Homo sapiens: one gene and its partner. The protein of the gene in region 1 interacts with the protein of each later gene in a pairwise test. Each region holds a gene or a part of one and is shown on either strand. Other genes may lie near its edges.

Region 1 (11,724 bases):
ACCTAGGACCCGCTCGCCCTCCTCACGTGCCCACAGCTCCCGGCGCTTGTGCAGCTCTGAAGGTTAGCTGTGGGCCTGCAGACCCGTGACCTGCGGGCTGGGACCCTCCTGTACAGACCGCGGCCCTGGCTAAGCCCCCACTCTTCCCAGTGTCACACTAGAGTACTGACGGTGGGGACCAAGTAACAGAAGGCACCATCAGTCCAGCCGTGGGTGTAGGAAAGAGAGGTTCGGGAACCAAGCAGGACAGTGCCCTGCGTATATTATTAATACCCTTTCATCCTCACAGCCCCTGGCCAGGCAGTTATTTTCATTTTACAGAGATTCCCATAGAGTAAAGGGCTTGCCCACTTCTCACAGCCAGGGAGTAGCCAGGACCCAGTGACGCCCTTCACCCTGCATCAGACCCCACAGAGGGTGGCTGTGGCCCGCACCTTTGGGTGGGTGGGAAGGGCCAAGGCTGGCGGAAAGGAAATGCCAAGATGCGTGTATTTAAGGATTCCTGTGTGTGTGCAAGTGCCACCTGCTTTGCCTAGGTATGATATAATTCATAAACATGAGCCCTTTGCATGCCTGTATGTTTCTGTGACTATAAAGTGCTGAGATTTTGCTTCACAGGTGACTTGTGGATCTCCTCTCATCATTTAAAAGTTCCAGTAGATGTTTTGTGTGTATCTATTTCGAGAGCGCAAGCGGGAAGGGGACATTGACCCTGACGCTTAACTCTCTCAAAATCCTAAGAACAACATTCTCTGTGCTCCCCTGCCCAACCCTCTATCTCTTCTTCTGGTTGAAGTTAAGGGGTTGAGGGAGAAGCGGGAGGAGGATAAGGAGGCTTAGAGAAAGAGGAAGGAAGAGAAGCCGGGGGCAGGGAGGAGAATCTTCAGAATCCCTGGTACTTGGGTGAAAGGGAAGGAAAAGAATTCTGCTGCACCCTGTTGTTTTCTCTCTCCAGCCTGACCCAGTGTTTAATATCCCTGTTGTATTCACGGTCAGTTTGTGTCAGAAGGCCTCTGCGTAGCTGACAGCAAACATCACTAAGGTCAGATGGGCCCCATGAAGAACAGGGCAGACAGCTCTCGTGAGCTGTCACTATTTGTTTGCACCTTACTGTTTTCTGCAGTTGTTTCTTCTTTCTGCGTGTGCTTGAATCTCACACGTTGAACATGTATTTTAATGTCACAAGCCATTCTGCTAAATGGCAGTCAGTCTCACGCATTATATTCCATCTTAAAGTATTCTCCTGTATGACAGTGCTTCAAAGCTGGATGTTAATTCACCACCTTGCTAGGGCTGCATCCTGTCAAATGGAAACCGTTGTTGCAGATTCAGATACAGGTTAGATAACAGGTGTGTTCTCCTTAGAGATTGACCTTTGTCTCTACAAGAAACTTGACATTCATCCATGGACCTGTATCTATGAAAGCTGAATGGGTGTAACTGAGAAGTACAGCAGAGTGAGTGGGACCTCTTGGAGTACTTATATGTGTGTGTGTACCTGCCTCACAGGGAGTTGAGACATAAGGGCTGCTTCCTCATCCATGCCTTTCCATTTCCTGAATTTATGAAAAAGCCCTGCCATAAGATGGACATTGTAAGTGTAAAAGGCTGGACTCTGGAATTGAACAGACCTGAGTTTCAGTCTGCACCTCATGGGCAAGTTATTTAACATCTCCAACCTCAGTTTCCCACTCTGTAAAATGAGGATAACAGTAGTACCACAGGGGTTTATGAAGATTCAGTATAATAACACGAGAGGTGTTCCTGGTAATCATTTAGTAAATGGTAGCTGTTATTTTGATTATTACCTGATTGGATTATTTGTTGTAAGAATACTGCTAAATAATGAACTCTAGTGTTTTAAAATATAAATGCATGTTTAAAACAATTAATGTTGCTGCTGTTATTATCACATTAATATAACTGCCTAAAGAGATTTGTTTTGAATTTTCTCCTTTTCAGTCTCTTGTTCATTATCTCTGGTGTGTGCACGTGTGTGTGTGTGTGTGTGTGTGTGTGTGTGTGTGTGTGTGCTTGAGGAGGTCTTTTTAGTTTACCTCTTCTCATCTTCATCCATCTTCCAGCACAAGGCATGAAGATGGGGATATTCCAACCTGCTGCTTTCACCAGCTTCTCCTATGCCTCTAGGGAAAGTTATAAAAAAAACAGAACCCCTTACTCAGTCCACCTGCTAATGTGGAGATGAAAGCGTTTCTTCTTTCATGGTGCTTCAAGTGGAAGAAGAGGAGGCAATCCCCTGCCCTCCACCTCCCACATTCCATTGGTAAACCTTTTCCCTTCAAGGTGGCAGGAACCATCATGGTCACCTTTCTAGTCACCTATTGGCAGAGGACAAAGACAACTCACTTTTTACTGTACTACTTTCAAGAGACTCTTCCAAAGTTCCCCCCACTTTGTGCGTGCAGAGCAGATCTCTCATAGAGCAACACGCTGCAGTGGAGGGTGGGGCGGAGGATGAAATTTGTCTCCATCTGCATTTTCTGTTTTTCAGGAAGCACAGAATGATGCTTCTATGTCATTGTGCTGCCTGCATTCTCCTCTGCCTTTCTGTCATTTTATGGATCTTTCTATGATTAGGGAAGAGGCAAGGTTTATGGAACACTGGATTCTTTCCAGAGACCCAACTTGGCACTCTTTCCTTTGGCAAACCCACCATCCATCTCTCAGAAATCCTAGAGCTTGGTGTATTCACTTGGGAGTGGTTAAGTCTTTCCTAAGAAGCAACAGGAGAGTAAACAGCGACGTCAGTTTTTTCCCCTTTCTGGCTTGGAAGATCAAGACAGCCTACCCAGCTGAGGGCAGATAAGCTCCTTCCTCCCACAAATAGATGGTCCAGGGCAATCAAGCTGATGGTGCCCTTGTGCCTGGGTCGGTGCTGCAGAAAAGCATTTCCATGTGATGGAGTCAGAATGTGGTAGGGGAACCACAAGAGAAAAACAGGACTGGGAAAACACCAGGCCCCTAACTCTGCCCTTCCTCTCCCTCTCCTCCCCTACATGCTTAGCTTGGTCCACATGAACCAACTGAAGGAATGGATAGGATTCAATAGGATCCTGTTGAGGAGGTGGCAGGTGAAAGGGAAAGACATTCCAGAAGTCATACAGCTTGAGAAAAGACACAAATAAACAGGAAGGCAGCTAGAGTAGAGGGCGCATACTGGGGAGTTCTGGGAGATAAAGCTAAGCGAGTACAGGGAGTAAGTTGGTCTTGGCAGGGCTTCTGGAGCCCCCATGATTCTTGAGCAGAGATGTGACCAAATGAAAGCTGAGTTTTCAGAATGTACATCTGGCAGAGATGGAGAGATGCAAGATTTGCCTGGACTTGGCACCTCAACTCCCAGGGTATGGCCACAACATCAGAGAAGGTAGTGGCACTAAGGCAAGATGGAAGAGGGAGGGTGCAAATGGCATTTCAGAGAAATCAACAACAGAAGTTGGTGACAGATTGTACAAAAGCAGTGAAAGGAGAGGGAGAGTTGAAGGAGACAGTGACATGTTGTGTTGGGTAACGTTCTCTGGAGGCAGGGAAATGCAGGAGACAGGCTCCCCCACCCCACAGACGCTGCCTCTTCCTTCAGGCACTTAGCAGTGGTGTTTGGGGTAAAGATTCTTTTCCCCTTTGACATTAAGTTTCTCAGGTGCATTAGTTTTGAGGCACTGTGAGGTTTGAGGGTTTGTTGATTCTCATTGCTAGGTTCCTTGCAGAGGCTGTTTAGTAATCTTTGTCTACTGACAGATTGAAGATAAATGGGCTGGCCTGCTAAGGGCAAGGACAGCCTGGGAATGATGTGCCATTTGGTTATTAGTCATATTCCCATTTCTTGTTCCTGTTTGTTGAAATTTGCACGGATCTCTGCCTCATCCACAGAGTAAGCTGTAGCTGCTTTCGGAGTCAGGACCTTGTCTTGTGCTTCTTCATGTTCCTGGGATTTTATGGACATAGTAAGTGAATGAGCATCTTGAGGAACCTCCTAAGAACTTTGCCCTAAAAGGCCAGACCAGCAGCCAGAAACCTGTCCTATAAAGTAGACAGGATGCCAAGGCTTTCCCTCAGTGTTTTGTTTTGTTTTAGTGTTTTAAGATTTCTGTACTGTCTGGGACTCTGTGTTAGGAATTATGGGAAATGCAAAGAGAGATAAGGACACAGTTCACCCTGTCCTCCAGGACTTGACATTGGATGAGGAGACAGGGTATGTCTACTGATGACCACAGCCTAAGCCAGTGCATGAAGACTCCTCACCTCCCTTACCTGGCATCATATCCACAACCACATATCCCTTGACACCAGCCCTTCCTATTGCATACTTTATGGTTATTCCTGTGCTGGACTGTTAGTTAGCTTCCTAAGGACAAGGACTGGGTCTTTTTCATCTGTATCAGCCCATGCCACCCATGTCCCCTAAGCATAGTGGCAGGTTGCTGGCTGAATAGGTAGGTGGGTGGGTGGGCGGATGGATGGATGGATGAATGGATGGTGTTGTGGGTTGGTTTGCTAGGAAGCAGACTGTGAGATGGAGGTCAGCAGCATGTACAAGGTTTATTTGGGACTTCTCTTGGAATTAATAACTGTAGAAGGCAAGGGAAAAAAGGGGGAAGGGAAGGGAGCAGGACTGGGCAGAGAAGCTGAGCTACCATGTAGACCCAACAGCCTCAGTTGAGCCCATGGGAACTCTGGAGCTAGAATGGCTCATCAGAACTATTCTGAGTTGGGGTGAGAGGCCAGGTCTTTATACCTTTACACCCCCAAAATAAGCAGTCATTAAAGGCAAGTCATTTCAAGGAACTAGGAATAACCTTGAGTGAGGCTGTTCCCTCCAGCTGAGGGCTTCTGCAGGTAGCACTACCAGCCACTTGTGGAGGAAGTCCTTTGTTCCTGAAGGGGAGTCCGTGCAGCACATGGCAGTGGTCACCACAGGTGGCCTCCACAGATCTTTAGGACTGTTTACTAGGGATGGCAGGCCTGTCTACCAGCAGAATTCAGGGGATAGTTGTTGAACTGCAAACTTTGTCTAGACCTCTTTGGGGCAGTTTCGGTTGCCAGATTAAAGTGGCCATTCTAGACCTCATAGCTCTGAATCCAACTGTTCAATCCACACAGTCCAGTAGATGCTGGCTGATCAGCTGTTTTGTGTTCAGAGTGGTGCCAGGTGCTGTGATAGTATACAGAAATGCATTTAGATGTGCTCCTGCCTTCCAGAGGTTTGTAGCCATATTGGGGAGAGAAAACCCACCTCAAACTGGATCTGTAAAACTGGGCAGCACCAGCAGTAATTGGTGCAGGATTTGGAGCATAGGGCAATGTGATTTGGAATTCTAGTGGGAAGGCTTCTTAAGGTGAAGACTGAGTGTATATGAATATATACATGGAAAGCTCTATTTCCTATGTTATTTTTCTCATAAAAAATACAGCACTTGCCTTTTTATTTGTCAACAAAGCTAAATTTTAGTCACACTTTCTATTAGCATAGTTCCCTAACTGGTTCATTTCCCTTCAGCATTACCCTTGGCTCCCATTCGAATTCACATGTAAATCTCTATAAAGACACTACATAAATAACTTTGTTTTGTTTTTCAGTCACTTGGCTTCCAACTCTTTATGTAAAATGCCTATGTAGGTGGATGTTTGGGCTGTATTCTATACAAATATAGAAATAAAAGGATAGAGAAGAAGAATTTAAAAGACAAGTTTCCTCTAAAAATCCAATCCAAAAAATCATATCAGGAGAGCAAATATCCTCCCCCTTCCCATATATATATATATATATATATAAAGGTATGCTAGAAAAATTTTATTTTATTACATATCAGAAATGTTCTTTTTAGGCAATGGCATGGGACAAATTCTGAGTCTGCTTTAGAACAATCTTCACGTTCATATTGGGTTTCCTAAGCATCATTGCCTGGGAATAAATTTGAGCCTGTTCATGGAAAATCTACCAGTGTGCATACTGTAAAAATGGAAGGCTTGGCAGCACAGAAAGTGCTAGACACACCCTAATAGAAACCAGTATTTTGTAACTCAGTTCTCTGGGAAAAAAAGGAGACACTTGGTGGTGTCCAATATTGCTTTAAACTATTGAAAAACCACAGGGGCAGCCACTGGCTTCTAGGTTGTGTTTCAGAAGTAAAATGTGCTTTCTGGGAAAATATTCTGGCCATGAAAGGAAGCATGTTAGCCATACGTAGCTTCATGGAGACTCCTGGTTTATATTTTTGTAGTAGAAGCATCCAGTTTCACATGAGGGAGGAGATTCTGGAAGGAGCTGTTGCTAGTGAGCACACACATCCCACACTCCTGATTTGGAGCCTGTGGGTTATGCTGGGAAGGTGGGCAAATACGAAGTCAAATACGGGAGGTAGGTGAGGGGAGCCATCTGCCCAGCAGGCCTCTGTGGCAGCTCTTTCCTGCCACAATTGAGTCATGGCTCCTTGGTTTCCTTTGGATAAGACTGAGAAAGTGAGGGTGGGAAGGCTGGGATTGGGGGTTACAGGATAAGAGAAACCAGGGTTTAAGAAATTGTGAGCTGGGTGCAGTGGCTCACGCCTGTAATCCCAGCACTTTGGGAGGCTGAGGCGGGTGGATCACCTGAGGTCAGAAGTTCAAGACCAGCCATCTCTACTAAAAATACAAAAATTAGCTGGGCATGGTGGTGCATGCCTGCAATCCTAGCTACTCGGGAGGCTGAGGCAGGAGAATTGCTTGAACTCGGGAGGCAGAAGTTGCAGTGAGCCTAGATCGTGCCACTGCACTCCAGCCTGGGCAAAAGAGAGACTCTGACTCCAAAAAAAAAAAAAGAAGTTGTAGCAAAACAAGATGAGAAATAAGATGGCATGATCCTTGCCAGCCCAAGGTCAGCCCCAGAGGGCTGTTACTGAACATAAAAGTATAATGATGTTTTACTTTTTATTTATCCTATATTAATTAAGCACTTACAATGTATTCGGGACTGGGTTAATTGTTTATATGGTAGTTGATCCTTATACCAGCCTTCTGGGCTATGTACTATAAATAGCCCCAATTTATAGAACAGAAAACCAAACACAGAGAGGTTAAGTAACCTGCTCAGGGTTGCACAGCTTGTCAGTAGAAATGAAGCCAGTCTAACTCCAGAGACTCTTCTCTTGCACCAGGTAGACTACGTAATTAGATTCACGGATGCCACCAGGCTGTCTTGCATCCCCCACACAGCTCCCACGGTTCCCAGAACCCTAACCCTTAGGCTCCCTCTGTTAGGTGAGGGCATTCTGCCTCCACAAAGGCCTGCTTTAAGCTGCAGACATTCCCTGCATTAGCCTATAAACAAAATGGGGAAGGACTGGCTGACTCCAGATCCAGATCAGGGGATGGTAAAGGGCGATCTGTGAGGGAAGATGGGAGAGTTAGCACAAAGCCACTGCTAGGCAGAAGGCCCTAGAAGGACGCTCCAGCCGTGGGCTTCTTCTGGATCACATGGGCCTGGTGAGAGAGGAGAGAAGAAGGTTTGAAAAGCAGAGTTAAGAGAGATACCAAAGTCAAATACACCCTTTTTCAAAGTGTGCTTAAGCTGGGTCCTAAGCCCTTTTTTTCACCCCAGCATTTAGAATCATTTCAGATATACAATCCCCAGGACATGGTGACCAGCAGGACTTGAGGAGAGAAAATTCAAAAGGTGAGAGTGCAACATAGTGAAAAGAACTTGACATTCAGAGCTGGATGACTCAGGTCTGTGTTTCAAGCATTGTCGCTTAGTTATTGCTTGTCAGTAACATTATTTTCTGACCAAAAAAGTGCAAGCTCATGGTAGAATATGTGAAAACAGTACAAGGAAGAAAATTAGATTGAGCCCTAAGAGAAGACTGCACTATTCCAAGAAGGTGGTCCAAAAGCAATTTGAAAAAGATGTGAGAGCTTTATTTAGGGAGAGAGGAGGGTTTAAAAAGAATGAGAGTCCTGTTTCTGAAATGTTGACCTGGGATGCTAAAAACATTTTGTTCCACTGTCAGGCAGTGTTAGAACCAGAACTGGAGGCCAGATCCCATGGCTTCTTTGTGTTTACCCCAAAACATGTAATTAAAAAAAAAAAAAAAAGAATCGGAGCTATTCCAGGTATTGAGATATCAAAAGGACTTTTGCTGTTTTTCCTTCTGACACCTTCTACTGTGTTCTTGCCACTCCCTCCCATCACCTGCATTTCCTTTCTTAGGTTTCTCCATCCTGGGCCCATTTGCCACAGGTCAGACCAGCACAGGCCCACGCTAGCACGTTGCCCAGGGGCCTCCTTCCCTTGGGTCAGGCCCACTTCTCTTTCTTAGTCAGAAGAGCCCTCCACAAAGCCCTCAGAAGATTAATGCATTTTTTTTTAATACTTGAGAGGCATTTGGTAGGTTTTACAGATGCCCAGTGACAATTGCAAAGGTTAATTTACTTTGAGCTTAAATAGCTACCAGCTTCAAGAAAAGTTTATTGGCCACTAGTTCTCCAATTACATTTTATCTTTCTTTAGATTGATTTTTTTTTTTATTGTAAAGAAACTGGCATGTTTGTTCATCCATGTTTGGTCTCTCTACCTTTAGGATTTAACTTCATAATTCGCTGAGTCAAACAACGCAGGCAGAGCTAAATTTATACAGGGTCAACTTTTAGAGAGCCCACAGCAGTATCTGGTAGGTATCAAACCTGAATTTTTGTGACTCTATTTTTCTTTGTTTCTAACTTCTCTGTGTATAATCCTGGTTTCTCTGTACCTTCTCAGTTGCTCCTCCTGCATCCCTCATTAATACCTTTTTCCTAACTATGTCCCTTAAGATGGAGCTCTTGCCTTGCTTTTTTCTGACAAAATACTTTATTAGAAAAGACCATCCATTCTTATAACAATAGCTGTAAGCTTTTGGGAAGCTAAAGGCTCCCAAAGTTGTACTCTAGCCCAGTCTTCTTTCCTGAGCAAGAATCCTGTCTTCTAAAGGCCCCGGACCCCTCCTCCTCACTGTTTAGGAGACACCCCAACACACCCACTCCAGGCCATCACCTTTCCCTCACTTTTTCCCAACTCTGCTGGTGGCCTTGACAGCCACCGAGTCACTCGAAGTTAAAAGACTGTGAAATCATAGAACAGTGAAAACTCCTCCACACATGTTCTCATAGCAAAACCATGACATGGATAAAGCAGGTATTATCATTCCTAGTTTACAGATGAAGAAACAGATGCAGAGAGATTAAATTATCCCAATCACAAAGTAAATGGCAGATTTTTGCTATTTAAAACTGGCCAGGGCGGGGGCAGAAACAAACCTAAATAAACAACTTGAATATTCAGTCAAATATTTATGGAATGATTAAATACATAATGACATTTCCACACAGTGGGATATTATTCAGATGTTAAGGAAAGTTAATTTGAAGAACATTTGATGATATAGGGAAATGTTCACATTATAACATTGTCAAAGAAGGCTCAATAATCTGTGATCCCTGTTTTTCTGTATGTACGTATATACATAAATGTGCATACACACACACACACACACACCCCTATACATCTACCCCTTTGTATATGGAGAGGGGGAGAAATCTCCCCTCACAGTCACACACGTAAACACTTGAGATTTTTTGTTAATGCTCGAGCAAAATAAACCACTCTGTGATGAGTGCATAGGTAATTTTAATTGTCTTCTTTGTAGTCTTCCAGATTTGTCTTCAGTGAGTACATGCAGCTTTCAGCTGGTAATTTGCTTTTATAAACAATAGCCAAGTGAGCTGCAGTGCCTGTTCCCCAGCTCATCCTCCTGCAGGCTTGTCCCAGGCCCCTCCGTCCTCTCCCTTGAAATTTGCTCTTCCATCAATTCCCTGTGTTCCAGTCCTCTGTGGCCCCCCTCACTGGCTCCGCCCAGCCCCCTGCCTGGGGTGATCCAGCCTTCTGCCCTGTTCACCCCCTGCCCTAGCCTCAGCCCTTGCTTTCTCTGGTGCCTCCACCCCCATCACCACCTCCTGCTCTGAGCCCACCTGGCCTAGCCTTTGTGGGCCTCCATGCCATGAACAGGGTCAGAGCTTGTAAATATGAGGCCTACAGACTGGCCAAGGACACTGCAGCATCCCAGTCTAAACGCACCCGTGGGTGAGCCTGTGGACTCAGCCATCTTGGCTTTCTTGAAACTCAGCGTCGCTGCTGCTCGCTGGCTGGCAGGGGGTCCACTTGGCAGCTCTGACCCACATGCCCTCTGCAACCCTTCCTCTGTCCTTGACCTCTATTCCAGATATGAGTGACATTCACTTCCCACATTTTCATTTACCTATACTAATTTTGTGTTTTTATTACTTTTTAAATTAGAGGGGGATACAACGACATTTAAAAGCCTGTTGTAACGGGATTGTTAGCTTTTAGGAGGTATTGGTCTGCCACCACCACCGTCAGTCCATCGTTCCAAAAAAATTTATTATTGAGGAGTGGTGTGATATTAAATATAATGTGAATCTATTTCTGAAGGAATTAGACTGAAATTTAATTGAAGATTCCTTGTGCATCTTGAAGCTAAAAATAAGAGATCATACGGTGGCCCCAGAATCCCTTACTCCCCTCTAGCCTCCCAAGCAGAGGTAGCCCAGTCAGGAGGCTTCTAGAAAAGGAAGTGCCCACCATTTAGATTCACATTTAACAGAATTTTTAACCCAGTTTTAAATTAGCCCCAATCACCCTTAATAGTTGGTATTCCCCATCAGCCAGGATTTTGTCTATCTTTATTTACTTTCTTGGTTTATATTATGAAAAATGATTTATCCTTACTCCTTTTCAGGTATAAAATTATACAGTCAGGTGCTGCATAATGATATTTTGGACGTGATAGTAGTCCCTAGGCTTACAATGGAGCTAAAAATTCCTTGCACCTGATGATGTTTTGACGATCTTGACCCTTTGTCGGCAGAGACTAATGTATGTGTTTTTCTTAGTTTTTAACAAAAAAGTTTAAAAAGTAAAAGAAAAAAATTAATAGAAAAAAGCTTATAGAATAAAGATATAAAGGAAAAAATAATTTTTGTACAGCTATACAATGTGCTTGTGTTTTAAGCTAAGTGTTACAACAAAAGTCAAAAAGTTTTTAAAAATTTAAAGTTTATAAAGTAAAAAAGTTTCAGTAAGCTAAGGGTAATTTATCACTGAAGAAAGAAAAATGTTTTTTATAAGATTAATGTAGCCTAGGTGTACAGTGTTGATAAAGTCTATAGTAGTGTACAGTTATGTCCTGGGCCTCCACATTCACTCTCCACTCATTCACTGACTCACCTGGAACAACTTCCAGTCCTGCAAGCTCTATTCATGCTAAGTGCCTTAGAGAAGTAGACCATTTTTTATCTTTTATACTGCATTTTTACTGTACCTTATACATGTTTAGATATACAAATACCATTGTGTTACAGGTGCCTACAGTATTCAGTACAGTAACATACGGTACAAGTTTGTAGCCTAGGAGCAAAATGCTGTACCATATAGCCTAGGTGGTAGTGGGCTTGACCATCTAGGTTTGTATAAGTACACCGTATGATGTTCACCCAATGGCAAAATCCCCTAATGCATTTCTGAGAACGTAGCCCCATCAAGTCACTCATGACTCTATGTTGACTATGCTTTTTCACGCTTCCAGAAAAGTCCCCTCATTAAAAAAAAAAAAAAAAATTCACTCTTTCTTAGTTTTCAAGTTGAAAGCAGGAAAGTTCCCTTATTTAGTGCCTTTA
Region 2 (11,724 bases), on another chromosome or scaffold:
CCATTACATACCTGCCAGAATGGAAAAGATGAAAAAGAAAGTGCCAGATATTGACAAGGATCTCTTGCAAACTACAGATAGGAGTCTAAATTGGTACAATGACTTTGGAAAACCATTTGGCAGAATCTGTTAAAGCTAAATATATGAATGCTCTGTGACTCTATAGTTATACCCCTAAGTATGGAACCAGAAAAGTGTACATATGCATGTAGATATACATGCTCAAGTCTTATGTTCTTAGCAGTAGTTTTTTTTTTTCTTGAGACAGGGTCTTGCTCTGTTGCCCAGACTGAAGTGTGCAGTGGTGATCACAGCTCACTGCAGCCTCAAACTCCTGGGCTGAAGCAATCCTTCCACCTCAGCCTCCTGAGTAGCTAGGACTACAAGGGTACACCACCACGCCTGGCTGATTTTTCAATTTTTTGTAGAGATGAGGTCTCATTATGTTGCCTAGGCTGGTCTTGAACTCCTGGCATCAAGTGATCCTCCTGTCTTGGCCTCCCAAAGTGCTAGGATTACTGGCATAAGCCACCATGCCTGGCCTAGCAGCACTATTTTTGGTGGTCAAAAACTGGAAACAGGCCGGGTGTGGTGGTTCATACCTGTAATTCCAGCATTTTGGGAGGCTGAGGCAGGCAGATCACGTGAGCCCAAGAGTTCAAGACCAGACTAGGCAACATGACGAAACTCCCATCTCTATTAAAAATGCAGAAAATTAGCCAGCATGGTGGTGCGTGCCTATAGTCCCAGCTACCCATGAGGCTGAGATGGGAGGATCACCTGAGCCTGGGAGGTTGAGGCTACAGTGAACAGAGATGGTACCACTGCACTCCAACCTGGGGGACCAGAACGAGACCCTGTCTCAAGAAACACAAAACAAAACTGCAAACAGCTCAAATGTCCATCTTCTGTAGACAAGTAAATTTTGCTGTGTTTATACAATAGAATATTATCCAGCAATGCAAATGAACAAACTATAACTACACACAGCTGCATGGATAAATGTCAGAAACATGACGTTGAGTGTGAGAAGCCAGATGCAAACGAGGACTCACTGTGCAATTCTGTGCATGTACAGTGGCCAGGTGAGGCTTATGGAGTGCTGAAATGCTCTGTATCCCAATCTGGAGGGTGGTTTTAAAAAAATGTTTTGAGCCAGTGCGTTGGTTCACACCTGTAATTCCAGCACTTTGGGAGGCCAAGGTGGGCAGGTCACTTGAGGTCAGGAGTTCGAGACCAGCCTGGCCAACATGGTAAAACCCTGTCTCTACTAAAAATACAAAAATTAGCTGGGCATGGTGGCACACACCTGTAATCCCAGCTATTTACAAGGCTGAGGCACAGAGCAGGGCTCTGTCTCAAAAAAAAAAATCATAAATAAAAAATAAAATTTAAAAAATACTTGATTTTAATTTTTTTAGAGATGGGGGTCTCGCTGTGTCACTCAGGCTGGTCTTGAACTCTTGGGCTCAAGCAATCCTCTCACCTTGGCCTCCCAAAGTGCTGGGATTTCAGGTATAAACCACCACGCCTGGCCCTGGAGGGTGGTTATACTTGTGTAGTAAAAACTCATGAAACCTTACACTTATGATTTGTGGTAGACTTTTCTGTATTAATGTTATATATATATATATTTTTTTTTCTTTTTTAACCTTTTTTTGGTAGAGACGGGCCCTGCTAAGTTGCCCAGGCTGGTCTTGAACTCCTGTGCTCAAGTAATCCTCCCTCCCTGGCCTCCCAAAGTGCTAGGATTACAGGTGTGAGCCACTGCTCCCAGCCTAAATAAAAAGTTTGCTTCTCCCCTCCTTTTCTCCCCAAAAACCAGGGTGTTATCAGGAAATCTACTTAACTAGGCCTAGGTGAATTGCAATAGGTTGCATTATGCTAAAAGCAAATGTACAGGTTGGGGGGGTGTTGTTGTCAGCTCCGCCATGTCGTGGACCTGCCCCCTTTTCAGGACACCTCACGTCACCTTCCATAACAGAACAGGTAACGTGACATATGAGGTGCACTGTTGACAAGTGACACTGGTGACAAGTGAGGAGCACTGTTATCAATCTGGAAAGGAAATATAAGCATAGCTTTACTCATTTATTTATTTATTTTTTTAATTTATTTTTGAGACAGAGTCTTGCTCTGTCACCCAGGCTGGAGTGCAGTGGCGCAATCTCGGCTCACTGCAACCTCTGCCTCCTGGGTTCAAGCAATTTTCCTGCCTCAGCCTCCCAACTAGCTGGGATTACAGGCACCCGCCACTATGCCCAGCTAATTTTTTGTATTTTTAGTAGAGACAGGGTTTCACCACGTTGGCCAGGCTGGTCTCAAACTCCTGACCTCTTGATTTGCCCGCCTCGGCCTCCCAAAGTGCTGGGATTACAGATATGAGCCACCGTGCCCAGCCATTTCTTTCTTTATTTTTTTTTTTTTAGAGACAGGGTAATGCTCTTTGACTCAGGCTGGAGTGCAGTGGCATGATCATAGCTCACTGGAGGCTCAGACTCATAGGTTCAAGTGATCCTCCCACCTAAGCCTACTGAATAGCTGAGACTACAGGCACGCACCACCATACCTGGCTAATTTTTGTATTTTTTGTAGAGACAGAGTTTTGCCATGTTGGCCAGGCTGGTCTTAAACTCCTGGGCTCAAGTGATCTGCCTACCTCAGCCTCCTGAGTCACTGAGACTGTAGTTGTGTGCCACCATGCCAGGCTAACTTTTTTTTTTTGAGACATGGTCTCTCATTCTGTAGCCTAGACTGGAGAGCAGCAGTGGACCACAGCTCACTGCAGCCTCAACCTCCCTGGGCTCCAGCGACCCCCCAGCCTCAGCTTCCCAAGTAATTGGGACTACAGGCATGCGCCACTGTGTGCCACCCAAAAAATCTTAGCATACCGCGTAGCACAAAGGGAGCGTTCAGCACATGGGAGCTATTACCAGGCGTCTTAATCCATTTTGTGCTGCTGTTACAGATTACCACAGACTGGGTAATTTATAAAGAAAAGAAGTTTATTTGGCTCACAGTTCTGGAGACTGGGAAGTCCAAGAGCATGGTGCAAGTATCTGGTGAGGGTCATCCTGTGTGAGGCAGAAGGCTCACATGGTGAGCAAGTGCATGAGACAGACAGCATGGCAGCAGAACTCATCCTTTTGCCAGGAGCCCACGCCAGAGAAAACTAACCTACTCCATGACAATGGCATTAATCCATTCATGAGAGCAGAGCTCACATGGCCCAGTCACCCCTTATACTGTTAAACAATGGCAATTCAATTTCAACATGAGTTTTGGTGGGGACATTCAAACCATAGCACCAGGATCGTTAGTAGCCACATGATAAAATGTATGTCTTCAAGATTTGAAGACAATGGCATAAGGTCAGTGATCCAGCTGCTTGTACCCCTGACTTTTTCTGACCCTAGGAGAAGGGAGCACTGGCTTTGCTTTCATCAGGCCAAAGATGCCTTTCTTTGGGAATACGTTCAGTCCGAAGAAGACACCTCCTCGGAAGTCGGCATCTCTCTCCAACCTGCATTCTGTGAGTGTCGGTACTGGGGTCGGCCGGGTGTGCAGCATGAGTTGAGTGCTGAGCGTGTCTCTGAATGGAAAGTGTGGTCCTCCAGAGGCATCAGTGCAGGAGGGCATCCTTTCCGTCCATATCATTGCTATTGCGGAAAACATTTTTGAACTCTTGTTTGGGAATGATCGTCAGAGCTTGTTTATCCAAGAACCTAAGAAGACAATCTCATTATGATATTTGACCCCAAATATCCAAATTTTTTTTTTCTTTTTTGAGATGGAGTCTCACTCCCGTCCCACAGGCTAGGGTGCAGTGGCGCGATCTTGACTCACTGCAACCTCCACCTCCCGGGTTCAAGCGATTCTCCTTCCTCAGCCTCCTGAGTAGCTGGGATTACAACTGCCCGCCACCATGCCCGGCTAATTTTTGTACTTTTAGTAGAGACAGGGTTTCACCATGTTGGCCAGGCTGGTCTCGAACTGCTGATCTCAGGTGATCCACCCGCCTTGGCCTCCCCAAGTGCTAGGATTACAGGTGTGAGCCACTGTGCCCAGCCAGTATCATCCAATTTGACTTCTACTTTATTCTGTGACCTTTTCCTACAGAGCTAGCTATGCAGACTGGCCATGTCTTCACAGAAGGCGAGTGGGGTTGAACAACAAGGCTGTGGGGGCTGAGCATTCACTACAGGTTTCAGGTCTTAAGAGTCTGTTGTCTCCTGTTCCCAGTGAAAATCATGGTGGGGGCAGCCCCACTGTGGCCAGAGCTGGGCATTCTGTGGAGCAGGCCAGGCAGAGGCTTAGGATCTCAGTTTCTGGTGCCCCTAGGCCTGAGGCTCCCTTTCCTCTCTGCCATGTGTGAGAGATGCAGATACACCTGGCGGTCCCTCTAGGACATCCTCTGTCCTAATCCCACACAGCGTAAGAGCAGCAGTGTGCTTACATGACGTCTGTCTCTGACCGTGACTTGAAGTCGGTCCTCCCCTACATTGTTTTCCACATGCTGACAGGTACTTGTAAGCCTTGGTACTTGTAAGGCCTCCACAGCGCTCCATATGGTCACTGGTGGATTTTATTAGTTCCCCGTTATTACAGGATAACCACCCAGATCTTGGGAGCAGCACAAATGACCCTTGGTGGCCTCACTCCAGCTCTCCTTCCTGCCCTTGCCCTCTGCACACCCTGTGCTGCAGCCGCCCAAGCCCCGTGTGAACCTCCTCTGCGCACGCTACTCCTTCTGCCTAGAATGTTTAATTCTAGAATCTAGAATAGATTAATTAAAGAGCTATTGATTGATACCTTTCTATGTGCCAGGCACTCTCCTAAGCACTGGGCATGCAGAAGTGGATGAAGGAGGGGAGAGAAAAACATCAAATCCCTGCTTTCATGGGGCAGATACTTTAACGGAAGGCTACAGAAAATAAGCAAATTTATATCAGATGGTGATATGTGCCAGACAGCAAAACAAAGCATAGGCCTGGGATGGGGTGTGGCTGAGCACTGGGGACTGAGCTTTCATTTTCAACAGGGTGGTCAGGAAGGCCTAACTGAGAAAGGGACATTTGAGCACTTACCTGAAGGTCTCCCTGTGTTGAGCCGCTATTGAGGGCAGAGCTGGTCATACGCATCCCTGGATACCCAGTACCGAGTCCCGAATCGGGGTGGGTGCTCAGTGAGTTGTAGAAATGAATATCTAGGCCAGGCGCAGTGGCTCATGCCTGTAATCCCAGCACTTTAGGAGGCTGAGGTGGGCGCATCACTTGAGGTCAGGAGTTTGAGACCAGCCTGGCCAATGTGGCGAAACTCTGACTCTACTTTAAAAAATACAAAAATTAGGCCGGGCACGGTGGCTCACGTCTATAATCCCAGCACTTTGGGAGGCTGAGGTGGGCGGATCACAAGGTCAGGAGTTCGAGACCAGCCTGGCCAATATGGTGAAACCCTGTCTCTACTAAAAAATACAAAAATTAGCCAGGTGTGGTGGCGTGCGCCTGTAGTCCCAGCTACTCGGGAAGCTGAGGCAGAAGAGTTGCTTGAACCTGGGAGGCAGAGGTTGCAGTGAGCCAAGATTGTGCCACTGCACTCCAGCCTAGGCGAAAGAGTGAGACTCCGTCTCAAAAAAAACCCCAAAAATTAGCCGGGTATGGTGGTGCATGCCTGTAGTCCCAGCTATTCAGAGGCCGAGATGGGAGGATCACTTGAACCCGGGAGGCGGAGGCTGCAGTGAACTGAGATCGCACCACTGTACTCCAGCCTTGGTGAAAGAGCGAAACTCCGTCTCAAAAAAAAAAAAAAAGAAAAGAAAAGAATAGAATATGTAAATTGTACTGTCGCACGTTAAGAAGCAACTCCTCTTCCTCCTAATTGTTAGAATTTTATGTCTTTTCCACAACATATGTAGCTCCATATTAAGCAAATGATAACTTGGGGGACTATTACATTTAAAAAGAATTTTTCACTTGATTAACAGTTTATAGTAGGATTGCTTAAACTATTAAGTGTCAAGTAGGTATAAAATAATTCAATTTATAAATTTCAGTATATATAGCTTTTCTGGAAAACATCTAATGTATAAAACAGTATATTTTTTATCTCACAATTAAACTTTTCCTGTACATCATTTGATTTTATGGCTTTAAAAAAATCATTAAAGGTGCCAAGTAATGATTAGAGAAATGAGTTGTTGGGGTCATATTGTTGGCGGAAGAGGAGCTGGGATGAAGGCGTGTTCCGGGCCTGCTGAAGTTGTCACATAGCATCTCGCCCACAGTTGGATCGATCAACCCGGGAGGTGGAGCTGGGCTTGGAATACGGATCCCCGACTATGAACCTGGCAGGGCAAAGCCTGAAGTTTGAAAATGGCCAGTGGATAGCAGGTGAGCTGCACTTCCTGCCATTTTGTCAAACAAGATTGTAGGAGGAAATCCCCCTTTAACTGGTTCTGTCCTTCCTCCAGAGACAGGGGTTAGTGGCGGTGTGGACCGGAGGGAGGTTCAGCGCCTTCGCAGGCGGAACCAGCAGTTGGAGGAAGAGAACAATCTCTTGCGGCTGAAAGTGGACATCTTATTAGACATGGTGAGGCAGGTGATGGGGAAGAGAGGCCTAGCTTCTCCTTTTGGGGAGGCTCCACCTCGAGTCACTTAATCCAACAGATATCTCCTCAATGCCAGTTTGGCCAGGTACGTTGCTTTGCATCCAAAGCCACACGCAAGGAACAAGACACAGTTCCTGCCCTCACAGTGTAGAGGCAGGTGGACCGACCGTAAGCATAATTACATAAGGACCCAGTTGGAGTCTGCACAGGATCTGCACAGCACACGAGGGAGAAGTTATTTCTGTCAAGTCGGGAGAGCTTCCCAGAGGAAGGGATATCTGAGCTGAATGTGGAAGGATAATGGCAGGAATAGAGGTTAGATGAAGGCATTCCAGGAAGAGGGGTAGAGCCGGCTCATGGCTTGGAAGTGTCTCATACCAAGTAGGCATTAATCAGTGCCCAGTACAGACCAGCTGAGGGGCTCACACTGCATTAGTGTTGGTTTCTTGTGGCTGTTAAAAATCCAGCAACCCACTGGGCCTAGAGGAGCCTGTGAAGGTTCAGAGGCAGGAGAGCATACACTGTAGTGGTTAAGAGCACACACTCCAGAGCAAAATGGCCTGGGTTCCTCACCCAGCTCTGCTACTGACTAACTGCTCTGTAACTTAATTTCTTCAGCAATAAATGGCATAATAGCTAATTGTGGTGGTGCACCCCTGTAGTCCCAGCTACTTGGGAGGCTAAGACAGGAGGATGGCTTAACCTCAGGAGTTTGAGAGCAGCCTTGGCTGCAAAGTAAGATGCCATCTTTTTTTTTTTTTTAAAAAAGGACTAGGCTGGGCATGATGGCTCATGCCTGTAATCTTAGCATTTTGGGAGGCCAAGGTGGACGGGTCACAAGGTCAGGAGTTCGAGACCAGCCTGACCAACATGGTGAAACCTTGTCTCTACTAAAAATACAAAAATTAGCTGGGTGTGATGGCATGCGCCTATAATCCCAGCTACTCAGGAGGCTGAGGCAGGAGAATTGCTTGAACCCGGGAGGTGGAGGTTGCAGTGGGCTGAGATCGCGCCACTGTACTCTAGCCTGGGCAACAGAGTGAGACCCCATCTTGGAAAAAAAAAAAAGAAAAAGACTGACATTTTAGGCTGGATGTTTTTTTATTTTTATTTTTATTTATTTATTTATTTTAGACAGAGTCTCGCTCTGTAGCCTGGGCTGGAGTACAGTGGCATGATCTCCACCCACTGCCCCACTGCAACCTCTGCCTCCCGGGTTCAAGTGATTCTCCTGCATCAGCCTCCTGATTAGCACCCGCCACCACGCTTGGCTAATTTTTGCATTTTTAGTAGAGATGGGGTTTCACCATGTTGGCCAGGCTGGTCTCCAACGCCTGACCTCAAGTGATCTCCCTGTCTTGGCCTCCCAAAGTGCTGAGATTACAGGCATGAGCCACCACGCCCGGCCTGGATGTTTTTTTTTAAAAATGAGCATAATCGTAGTATCTACCTCATAGTGAGTTAGTACAAGAAAAGCACCCAGCCTGGCCGACAGAGCGAGACCGTGTCTCAGAAAACAAACAAACCAAAAAACAAAAACAAAAAAACCCTAAGGAGGAAAGTGGCATTCTATTTCTAGCATTTTTTCCCCTCATCCCCATTATGGGAGCTACAGCTTAGAATCAATTTCAGCTCTAATCCCTTAGCCTTACAATCACCAGTATCTGCCTTTGACGTCCTCTGAGACCTGCTCTCCTTCGTGCAGGGAGTGCCATGCCCTCGTGGGTGACAGCGTGCTGACAGAGTGGACTGTGAATATTCTTCAAGTACTTGTGGTCCTGGGTCATCAGGGGTTGCATTCTACCCAGTTACAGAGGGTTTCCCATCGAGGAAGCCAGCAGCATCAGAGAAGTGGCAGGGGGCCTTTCCTCCGTGTGTAGGGCCGGCCTTGCTAACCCGAAACATTTCCTAGAAATGTGCTGCTTGCTAACAGCCGCTGCTTCACTTTCAGCTTTCAGAGTCCACTGCTGAATCCCACTTAATGGAGAAGGAACTGGATGAACTGAGGATCAGCCGGAAGAGAAAATGAAGACCCCAGAGACATTTATTGGGGAGTAGGATGTGGCTGAGTGCTTTTTTTTTGGCCAGACTAGCGGATTCAGTCCTGGAAGAGAGTATCATATAATGAGACCCACAGGCACTGGCACCCTTGGGTTGGCAATAGAAGGTGACATGGAATGGAGAAAACCAAGATTCCAGATGGGGATAGTAACTAGAAGGTGCTTCAGATGCACTGCCTGCGGGTGCCAGTCTGAAAACCAGACCGCACAGAGGCCTGGGGCTGCTGATGAGCTTTTTGGTGCTCTCCACACACAAGCTCGCAAACACACATGTCCCAGAATAGCTCTGTTGGGTTGTGTTGGGAGAAGCGGCTGGAGTTCATTCTCTCACCCCCTTATGTTGGTGTTTGGCGTGTGACAGCAGTTCTACAGAGCTCTGTGTTGGGGTCATGGATGAGCGGCTCTCTTGGCTCTTAAAGGCAGGCCTCTCTCTTCTTGCCTTTAAAGAATCCTCCTTCCTCACACCTGGCCTCCTCTGGCTTCAGCTTCTCAGCAGCAAGCACCAGCCTTCCACAACAACACTATATTTTTATGCTACTTTCCTGTTTGCACTACTACTTTTTTATTAAACGATGTTAAATAATCTCTCTGTGACCAAAGTGACTAAAAAGAGAACCATGAGTTTCTCAAGAAGTAAATGGAGCTGGCCAGGCATGGTGGCTCACACCTGTAATCCCAGCACTTTGGGAGGCTGAGGTGGGCAGATCACCTGAGGTCAGGAGTTCGAGACCAGCCTGGCCAATAGAGTGAAACCTCGTCTCTACTAAAAATACAAAAATTAGCCAGGCGTGGTGGTGGGCACCTGTAGTCCCAGCTACTTGAGAGGCTGAGACAGGAGAATCGCTTGAACCCAGGAGGCAGAAGTTGCAGTGAGCCGAGATCATACCATTGTACTCCAGCCTGGGCGACAAGAGCGAGACTCCGTCTCCAAAAAAAAAGAATTAAATGGAGCCTGGCCAGGTGTGGTGGCACACACCTGTAATCCTAGCACTAGCACTTTGGGAGGCTGAGGCGGGCTGATTGCTTTAGCTCAGGAGTTCAAGACCAGCCTGGCAATAGCGAAACAAAATACAAAAAAAAAAAAAATTAGCTGGGCGTGGTGGTGCACACCTGTAGTCCCAGTCTCTCAGGAGGCTGAGATGGGAGGATCACTTTGAGCCCAGGGAGGTTGAGGCTGCAGTGAGCTGTGATTGCTCCACTGCACCCCAGTCTGGGTGACAGAGTAAGACCCTGTCTCAAAAAAAAAAAAAAAAAAAAAGTAACTGGAGCCTGGAGTCTAAGCCTCTGTTGTTCCATCAAAAGACAGAATTGGCCGGACGTGGTGGTTCACGCCTGTAATCCCAGCACGTTGGGAGGCTGAGGTGGGTGGATCGTCTGAGGTCAGGAGTTTGAGACCAGCCTGGCCAACATGGCAAAACCCCGTCTCTACTAAAAATACAAAAGAAAATTAGCTGGGTGTGGTAACACATGCCTGTAGTCCCAGCTACTTGGGAGGCTGAGGCAGGAGAATCACTTGAACCCGGGAGGCGGCCACTGCACTCCAGCCTGGGCGACAGAGCAAGACTCTGTCTCAAAAAAAAAAAAAAAAAAAAAAAGAATGTTTAGTGTGTGGGGAACTGTCACTCTTGTAGGAGAGCATTCCAGCTTTCCTGGGCATTGGCAGAGGCTGATGCCAAACAGAAACAGTCTCTCTGCTCAAAATTCGCCTGCCCTCCTGCTTCATGGTGTTGGGACTGGCCAGGACCTGGCAGGAACCTAATGGTTGGTGTGAGAATTTGTGCCGTAGGCAGTATGAGCTGGACTTTTCTGGCAAGAGGAGGGAATCCAGCTCCTGAAGTCAAGCGGGAAGGAACTGAGGGGGTGGAGGTGGGGGCATGGTGCCCAGGGCTTTAGACTAGGGACAGGCTACCATGGTTAGCCACTTCTGAATGCCCGGTACATGCCTGGCACCAGGCTCCCTTTGCTCTCACTGTCTCATTTCCCCTTCAGCTCAGCCCTGTGTAGCAGGGGCTATCGGCACATCCATCTGCAGAGAAGGAAACTCTGGGAGGTTCAGACACTGATCTAGGATCACACAGTAGAAGTGCTGGAGCTTGATTCACACAGCCCGCTATGAAAGAGAGGAGCTGGGGGCGGCCTCAAAGGGAGCTGCTGTCTGCAGTCCATCCTTACGGCCAGCAAAGCACTCTATGGGGGGGATGGATCGAAGGGCAGATTTGTAGCTCCAACCCATAACCTGACTTTCTGATACAGGAGAGAATGTTTAATACAGAAGAAATTGGAAAAGGATCCACATATATGCAAGGTGTAAATCTTCAGGTGCAGATAATAGGAGCAGTGGAGTTTGCTTATGCCTCGGCCGGTATCACTGGGGACCCTTTATTAATATTCCTGATGCTGGACACCTCCCGATGCTGGACACCTCATTTGCATGACACTCTTTCAAGTTTGTTATCCCCATCACCATGTTTTAGATGAGAAAACCAACCCAGCACAGTGACACAGTGGAAGGGTGGGGCCAGGACTGAAGCCTTGGGCATCATGTGGGCATATTTCGTTGTCACAATGGTGTGGATCCCCCCATGACCAGCACCATTAGGACCTTTGGGGGTTGCAGCCAGGAACCCTAAACATCCTGTGGTAGGAGGGGCAGTTCTGCAGTGAAGAAGGAATTTCTTTTGAGTGAGCGGGGAAGCAAAAGCCATTGTTATGAGCAGATAAATGCTATGATCCAACTGCACTTTTAAAAGGCGCTGGGCGTGGTGGCCCATATCTGTAATCCCAGCACTGTGGGAAGCTGAGGTGGGTAGATTGCTTGAGCTTAACAGTTTGAGACCATCCTGGGCAAAATGGTGAAACTCCATCTCTACCAAAAATACAAAAAGATTAACTGGGTGTGGTGGTGTGCACCTGTGGTCCCAGCTACTCAGGAGGCAGTGGTGGGAGGATTGCTTGAGTCCAAGAAGCAGAGGTTGCAGTGAGGTGAGATCGTGCCATTGCACTCCAGCCTGCTGACAGAGTCAGACCCCGTATCAATCAATCAATCAATAAAAATAA

What was found.
Region 2: the proteins of TNFAIP8L3 (region 1) and CBY1 interact in binary tests that used the Homo sapiens proteins (3 or more experiments, as listed by UniProt).

The regions. Positions count from the first base shown.
Region 1 is NC_000015.10:51,081,986-51,093,709, reverse strand, and holds part of TNFAIP8L3 (tumor necrosis factor alpha-induced protein 8-like protein 3), read left to right. Parts: intron 1-11,724. UniProt on the Homo sapiens protein: Acts as a lipid transfer protein. Preferentially captures and shuttles two lipid second messengers, i.e., phosphatidylinositol 4,5- bisphosphate and phosphatidylinositol 3,4,5-trisphosphate and increases their levels in the plasma membrane.
Region 2 is NC_000022.11:38,664,601-38,676,324, forward strand, and holds the end of CBY1 (protein chibby homolog 1), read left to right. Parts: intron 1-945; exon of another isoform or gene 946-1,085; intron 1,086-3,416; 5' UTR 3,417-3,454; coding exon 3,455-3,532; intron 3,533-6,283; coding exon 6,284-6,389; intron 6,390-6,469; coding exon 6,470-6,588; intron 6,589-8,558; coding exon 8,559-8,636; 3' UTR 8,637-9,250; downstream 9,251-11,724. UniProt on the Homo sapiens protein: Inhibits the Wnt/Wingless pathway by binding to CTNNB1/beta-catenin and inhibiting beta-catenin-mediated transcriptional activation through competition with TCF/LEF transcription factors.